Linked DNA regions of Homo sapiens. The protein of the gene in region 1 interacts with the protein of each later gene in a pairwise test. Each region holds a gene or a part of one and is shown in the gene's direction. Other genes may lie near its edges.

Region 1 (3,803 bases):
CAAGGGGTTTGTGGTTAGCACCAAAGTTCCAGTTCTAAGGTTTCCAGAGGGCTTAAGAACCATGAAATTGAGTGGGCAAGGGCTATCCGTGGTGCTTTCTAGACAGTCCATGAGCACCCCTGGCTGCTGGAGGAAGATGTATTCAAAGTCTATGGCAGGTAGCTCTATCAGCTCTCTTCCTTTCACCAAGTTATTGGCAGCAAGAAAGGTAAGGTGGCCTCTTCCGGTACTCCTGCTGCTTCCCCGTGTTCCCTATATTATTCACCCTGGCCCCACTTCCCTACCAGACAGCTTGTGGTGGTTTTGCAACATTCTCTGAACAAGTCAATTGTGCAACTCAGAATTTCAGAACAATGCTCTCCACCTCCTAATGTTGTTCCCCATACGGGCTGGGTAGTGGGCTGGGGAGGCAGGAGGGAAGCCACATCAAGGGAGGAAACTGTCTCTTCTCAGATCTGTCTGAAACTGTTGTCTTCACCTAGACTACTAGAAATCTAGAAGCTTTTCTCTCACTTCTTCTGTTAGGTGGGATTGTCTCCTTGCCTTTCTATTTTATTTTATTTATTTATTTATTTTGAGACAGCGTCTCGCTCTGTCGCCCCGGCTGGAGTGCAGTGGCGCAATCTCGGCTCACTGCAAGCTGCACCTCCCGGCTTCACGCCATTCTCCTGCCTCAGCCTCCCAAGTAGCTGGGACTACAGGCACCCGCCATCACCTCCAGCTAATTTTTTGTATTTTTAGTAGAGACAGGGTTTCACCGTGTTAGCCAGGATGGTCTCGATCTCCTGACGTTGTGATCCGCCCACCTCAGCCTTCCAAAGTGCTGGGATTACAGGCATGAGCCACCACGCCTGGCTGTCCCTTTGCCTTTCTGAAGCTGTTATGAGTATTATACATAGAGCTTGTGAGGCAGGCCTGCTAGACACCTTTTCTGTAATGGTTAAAGAAAAGGAAAACAAAAGGAAAAGGCAGAAGAGGATTAAGGTTGCTGGTGACCACTGTTTAGGGCAGAGTGACTGCTTAAATTCTTAAAAATACAACTATTGGATGATATTGCCATTTTGCACATTCTGTCCCCTGGAAGGGCTCTCCTACCTCTTCTTCCAGGAGTAAAACCCTCTGACAAAAGCTCAAAGGTTTAGGAGCCTTCAGGGTCCTAGGAGACTGTAGCTTTCAGGGCTCCGTGGTGACACAGTGAACTCTGCATCTGGCTCTCTCCCTGTTCCCTTCTCCCCTCCTCCTGCTCTTCCTCCATCAGGGAGTGAACAGGCATTCCTACTTAGAGGATTCTGCGTGGCTGGAAGAGAAGTGGGGAGGGGCTGCTCAAAACAAGCCAGCCAAGGAGCAAGGCAGTCTGAGGGAATCCAGCCTCTGGGACCGGCTGCTGGGGGAGAGCGGGAATGCTGCTCTGCCTGTTTCTAAAAGAGACAGCCAAACACCATTTATGACTTGTATGATGGGCTTGTATAGTACTAGAAATATTAAATCTGCACTTCTCCCTCCTGGAACTCAATATACAACCCGTGGTAGTGGGACTGGGTGTTAACAAATAGAATAATCTTTGTTTATGTGGGACCCTTCCTATAGTCTCTTTTCTGAAATGTCATTTGTGGGGAGGGCTGAGGGTGGGAGAGGGATAAGAGATGTGAGCCTCATTTTCTCACTGTTATTTCCACAGCAACAGGAACAGGACCCCACAAATTTATACATCTCAAACCTCCCACTGTCAATGGATGAGCAGGAACTGGAGGGGATGCTGAAGCCCTTTGGCCAGGTTATCTCCACCCGTATCCTTCGAGATACCAGTGGGACCAGCAGAGGTGTTGGCTTTGCAAGGTGAGGATGGCAGGAGTGGGGAAATGATGAGGTTAATAACAAATGTCACTTGGGGGTCACCAGAAAACAAAATCTATGCCTTTCCCACACAAGGTCAAAATACTTTACTATTATTCAAAAATACTTGATGGTAAGTCAAAAGTTCATTTTAGGCCAGGTGCGGTGGCTTACACCTGTAATCCCAGCACTTTAGGAGGCCAAGGCAGGCATATCACCTGAGGTCAGGAGTTTGAGACCAGCCTGGCAAACATGGTGAAACCCCGTCTCTACTAAAAATACAAAAATTAGCCAGACGTGGTGGCGCATGCCTGTAATCCCAGCTACTCAGGAGGCTGAGGCAGGAGAATTGCTTGAACCTGGGAGGCAGAGGTTGCAGTGAGCTGAGATCGCACCACTGCACTGCAGCCTGGGGAACAGAGTGAGACTCTGTCTCAAAAAAAAAAAAAAAAAAAAGGTTCATTTTATTATAGGTTACAATACTCAAAAACCCATTAGCCCCACCTAAATATTTTTTTTATAAAGATGGGGTCTTGCTGTGTTGCCCAGGCTGCTCTTGAACATCTGGGCTCAAGTGATCCTCCTGCCTCAGCCACCTAAGCAGTTGGGATTACAGGCATGAGCCACCACACTCGGCTAAGCTCCCTACTACTTCCTAGGGAAGTACTCTAGGCTTTGTTCCTTTAATCCAGACCCAACCAGAGTAAAAAATTCTGTATATTCTTATAGTTTACTGAGTATTTCTCATCTTGTCTCATTTAATCTTTACAACATCCCTGTGAGATAAATATTCTCTATCTTACAGATGAGGAAAGTGAACTCTTCAGTAGAAATGATTTGCCCAGGGTCTTACAGGAGTGGGTGTTAGAGCAGAGCCCTGATCCTTCTGGCTTTGAGAGCAGTAGGATGAGGTAGAAGTTTTGATCTTCCTTTTCAGATCTGTTGGGAGACCTGTATTCCAGAACAATTCTGCACCTGTGATATCAGAGCTTGTGAGCCTTGGTTCACTCTCTGAAGTGGAGATTGATTCAGATGAGTAATTTTCCCACAGTATTCCCTATACCTGCAGTTTTCCCAGGTGCCCTTCTTTGGGCTTTGGTATCTGCCCTCACTGTCGTAGGGTATCAGCCTCCCTTAGCCCACTTAAGAAATGGCTCTGCTTTTATTTATTTTAAGATTTTATTTGAAAGGAGATTCTTTTGACTTTTTTTTTTTTTTTTAGTTTCAAAATGACTGGACTAAGTGAGCCAAGCACCCCTTTTTGCTTTATATCTTGTCTGGTCCGTGAACACCCCCTTACTCTGAGTGTTTCAGACCTTGGGAACAAGAAATAGTTTCTCTTGGCTGGGCGTGGTGGCTCACGCCTGTAATCCCAGCACTTTGGGAGGCTGAGGCGGGTGGATCACCTGAGGTCAGGAGTTTGAGACCAGCCTGGCCAACCTGGTGAAACCCCGTCTCTACTAAAAATACAAAAATTAGCTGGGTATGGTGGCGGGCTCCTGTAGTCCCAGCTACTCGGGAGGCTGAGGCAGGAGAATCACTTGAACCCGGGAGGCGGAGGTTGCAGTAAGCCGAGATCGCGCCATTGCATTCCAGCCTGGGCAGCAAAGCGAGACGCCATCTCAAAAAAAAAAAAAAAAAAAAAAAAAAGAAGAAGAAGAAAAGAAATAGTTCCTCTTCCCCAGCTGACTCAAGCTTAGTAGCACCACCTGCTGGCAATCCCGTGTATATCTAAAGGAGAGTTCCTAGGCTTGGGACCATCGAACTTATTTTGCAGGTTGAGCAGAGGTTCTTAACCTTTCTCAGTTTGTGCCACCCTTAGTTATCTAATAGTTTTTCACCCTAGACCAAAAGAAATACCTAACAGTTCAATTTATTAAGTAACTGAATGGTCCACACTTTTTTTTTTTTTTTTTGAGACGGAGTCTCGCTCTGTCGCGTACCACAGGTGCGTACCACCACGCCTGGCT
Region 2 (4,346 bases), on another chromosome or scaffold:
AAAATCTTTGCAAATCACATGTGTAATAATGGGCAGATATCCAGAAGATATAAAGAAGTCTCGGACCAGGCATGGTGACTCACGCCTGTAATCCCAGCACTTTAGGAGGCTGAGGCAGGTGGATCACTTGAGGCCAGGAGTTTGAGACCACTCCGGCCTGGGCAACATAGCAAGACTCCCTCTCAAAAAAAAAAAAAAAAAAAAGTCTTGGCTGGGCACCAGGTGACTCATGCCTGTAATCCCAGCACTTTGGGAGGCCAAGGCAGGATGATCCCTTGAGCCCAGGAGTTCGAGACCAGCCTGGGCAAAACACTGAGACCCAGTCTCATTCTAGATATTAAAAATTAAAACCAAAATGTAAATAAGTCTCAAAACTTAATAATAAAGAAACAACGTGATTTTTATTAATGGTCAAAAACTTGAATAGACTTTGGAGAAGATACACAGGTGGTAACTGAACACGCAGAAAGTGTGTTAAACACGCGAACCACAGCCCCAGCGAGACGCCACCACCAGGGAAATGGCTAAAATGTAAAAACCTGCCGATAGCAAGAGCCGCCCGGGATGCGGAGCAGCTGGAAGCGCCGGCGGCCGCGGGGAGGGAGCGAGTCTTGGCAGCTGCTGGCTGCGCCCCACATCCCTCACCGTCCAACTCAGCCCCCCCAGGTGTTTACCGAAGTGCAATGAAAGCTTCTGTTCACACGGAACCTGCCTATGGAGGCGGCAACGGCTCATCCCCGAGCACCCCACGCGGAGGCGAAGGAAGTGTCCTCCCGGCGAGTGGCCAAGGCGCGGGGTCTCAGCCAGGAGGGAAGGGTCGGACCCCGGGGCGGGCTGCAGGCTCGGCCAGCCCAGGGCTCCGCGCGTCTGACCCCATCCTGAGGACCCAGGGGAAGGACCAGCCCTGGCTCTGCGGCCTCGAACCGGGGGCGCGCGTGGGGAGCCCTGAACCCCGCAGCCTGCGTAGCGCACGGGGCCTCTCTCCAGCGTGGGAAGAGCCCCCGAGACGCCCAGGAGCCCGACAGGCGCGCCCCCGGCCCCGGCTCCGCCTCCCGGCCCATCCCGCGCGCCCCCAGCCCCTCCCGCAGCACCGTTGCATGAGGGGCGGGGTCTGCGGGTGGGCGGGGCCTCGGTGCCCGCCCCCTCCTCAGCCGAGCCGGGGGTCGAAGGCGGGCCGCGCGCCAAGCCCCGCCCCCGCGCGCCTCCGCCGCGACCCTCCCCCGCGCGCCCCCGCCGCGCCGCCGTCGGCCGACAGAAAGGCGCGCGCCCTCGCCTTTAACGCGGGCCCGGGGGCGCGCGGCCCGCATGGCGAGGGAGCGGCGGCCGCTGCGGGCCGGGCCGGGCCGGGGCTGAGGCCGAGCGAGCCGCGGGGCCCGCGCAGCCCCGGCCGGAGCCCACCATGCGGCGGCTGCGGCGCCTGGCGCACCTGGTGCTCTTCTGCCCCTTCTCCAAGCGCCTGCAGGTAAGCGCGGTGCGCGCCCGCCGCCCCCGGCCGCCTCTGCCTGGGGAGGCCGAGCTCCAGCCCCGGAGTGGGCCGAGTACGGAGCGGGGCCCCGGGTTCGGACACGAAGGGTTCATGAGCCCGGGGTGGGCAGCGGGGAGGGGGCGAGTGGCTCCGGAAGGACGGGACGCTGGGGGAGGGGCGGTGGCGGCGACAGGAGGGTCCGGGCGCGGGGATGCTGCGGCCTGGAGGCCCTCGCCCCGACCTGCAGGCGGTCCCTGCCCCCCAGGCCCAGAAACCACACCGAAGTCCTTTCTTCTTTTCTCCACTTAAAAAATGAGGTGTGTTATTCTGCGGTAGAAAACTTGGGACGCACAGAAACGCCCTGGCAAGGACATGACCTCCCCGCCCCCTGCCCCTTCATCCCATCAGCCAGCCGTAGCGCGGGGACCCTGCCCTGACCCCGGGATGACCTTGAACCACCGTCCCCTCCAGGGGCCTGGCCGGGTCCGCAGGGGAGGCCCGGGCCGCCTTGGGTTCCAGCTGCCAGGAGCCCTTTCACCTTCTGCTTTGGGGAGATGCAGGCCAGGCCCATCAGGCTCCAATCATCCGGGGCCCGGCCTCGGATGGGATGCCCTCCCAGACCCTCCAGGACCCCAGCCATCTGCCGGAGGCGCCAGTCCTGGTCAGATTTGCCTGTATCTCCCCGGCCCCCGCAGGGTGGTCCTGGGTCAGCAGGAGGAACCCTGCCTGCGTCCTGCCTGAGCTCAGGGCCTGGCTGGCCTCAGCTCCCCTTCTGGGAAGAGCGTATGGAACCTGGCAACCCACAGATTGCAGCGAGACCCTCTGTGCCCACTTGGGGCTTCAGGTTGTGGTGGTCCCGGCTCAGCCTTGGGGCAGGGTGAGAGCTAAGGGGTCTGAGGACCACCCCAGTCGCTGGGAGGTGGGGTGCACAGTGGTCCCCTCCCCCGAGGAAAGGCCTCGACCAGCAGCTGCAGAAGAGATGCTGATGCTTGGAGCTCCGCCCAGGAATGGCAGCAGAGGGGTGTTGGCTGCTCCCAGGGTGGCTGGCTCGGGGCCAGAGCCCTGGTGGGAGCCCAGCCTGCCCCTCTAGTGGCGAGGGCCTCAGTTTCCTGGCCTTGTGAACTGCTTTTCTGGGTTAGTGCTGTGGGGCTCCTGGCCCACGGTCTGAGCCTGCTGGGCTGAGGACCACTGTGCTGTTCCCATCCCCTGGGTGACCTTCCCTATCCTCCAAGTGGCTACACCGGGAGCTGGTCCCCACCTGCCCCTGCAAAGCCCCAGCCCAGGTCCTGGATGGTGGGGCCACCTCCACACTCAAGCTTTGCCCGTCCATCTGTGCCAGGCCCGGGAGCCAGGGTGGGCCAGGGAGCACTGTGGGGGCCTTGCAGAGCAGCTGCTTGGGACCCCAGGATCCACAGCAGGGTCAGGGATGGCAGCTGGGGAAGATCAAGACCTAGGGGAGAGCTGGGCAAGGTGGCTCCTGCCTGTAATGCCAGGCCTTAATGGGAGGGTCACTTGAAGCTGGGAGTTCGAGGCTGCAGTGAGCTGTGACTGGACCACTGCACTCCAGCCTGGGCAACACAGCAAGACCCTGTCTCAAAAGAACAACAACAACGAAAGAGCTGGGGGATGAACCAGAGCTGGCCAGGCGGAAATAGGCCCTGGCCCAAGCCCAGTCGGGGCTCTGGGGAGCAGAACTGGGTAAGTCCCTAGCTTGGTGTCACTGTCCCCAGCTGGGGTCAGCCCTAGGCCCGAGGCCAGCTGCAGCCTCCCTCCTCCTGGCTGTCCTCCGAGGCCCCGCCCATGCTGGGCCTCCCTGCATGGCCCTGCCTTGGGCACGTTCACCCCAGACGGAGCCATCCGACCTTATCCTGCCAGAACAACACCCACCCCCCATTGTTTCTCTGCTTTCCTGTTTTTCATCTTGAGCAAGTCTGCCGGAAACAGATTCAGTGCCCAGGACAAGTGGTCTGAGGGGGCGGAGACCAACCTGGGCCTGGAGGGCTCCCCACACCGGAGCCACGCCCTCTGCTCCAGGACCCCCAGGACCCCACTGCTACTGGAGGTCTGGGCCCTTCCCCAGCTGCTGGGGGTCCTCCCTCTGTAGCCCTGCCTGGGGCGGCCATCCGTGAGTGGATGCCGGGGAAGCAGGAGACCAGGGCCCACCCATCCTGAAAGAACCAGAAAAAACGACCTCAGCTGCCTGGGCTGTGCCTTGTCCTCGTTGAGGAGCTGGTGGCCCCATTTTAGGGAGGAGTCCCCTGCTCACGGCCTAAGCCGGGCTGCAGCCCACGACCTCTGATGGGGGCTCTGGCTTGGGCAGGTGGGGGTGTGGCCAGGCGCTGCCGGGAGGAGGATGTGCCCAGGGCAGCCTCTCCCTGGCCGCAGGTGGACAGGAGGCCACAGGGAGTGCTTGGAGCCAGCAGTGGGGCCTCTCTGAGGGGAAGCTGGCCCCCAAGCCTGGGCCCTTCACCCTTCAGCTGCAGGTCAGGGATGTCTGAACCCCTGTGTAGGGCAAGTCCCCTCTGCTGGCCAGTGCCTGAGAGGCCTGAAATTTGCTAGGGGGCTGGGGAGAGGGAAGGTGGCATGCAGCTGTCCCTGGCTGTCACCCTTGGAAGCCCAGCTTGGAGGCCTGCACCCTAGAGCCGGTGCCTGAGCCTCCTCAGGCCGGTAGGGAAACCAAGGCAGAGGGACTGAGGATGGCAGAGTGACCTGGAGCCCTCCCTAAAAGCCGGCTCCCAGACATCTGGGTCAGAGCTTTAGGCAGGGGCCAGGGGCTGCCTGCTTACTTTTTTTTTTTTTTTGAGACGGAGCCTCACTCTGTCGCCCAGGCTGGAGTGCAATGGCGCCATCTCAGCTCACCACAACCTCTGCCTCCCGGGTT

Evidence for each region.
Region 2: the proteins of RBMS2 (region 1) and DIPK1B interact in a two-hybrid assay, tested with the Homo sapiens proteins (one large-scale study listed by BioGRID and IntAct).

The regions. Positions count from the first base shown.
Region 1 is NC_000012.12:56,570,020-56,573,822, forward strand, and holds part of RBMS2 (RNA-binding motif, single-stranded-interacting protein 2), read left to right. Parts: intron 1-1,678; coding exon 1,679-1,836; intron 1,837-2,770; coding exon of another isoform or gene 2,771-2,873; exon of another isoform or gene 2,874-3,803.
Region 2 is NC_000009.12:136,711,267-136,715,612, forward strand, and holds the start of DIPK1B (divergent protein kinase domain 1B), read left to right. Parts: upstream 1-1,305; 5' UTR 1,306-1,399; coding exon 1,400-1,462; intron 1,463-4,346.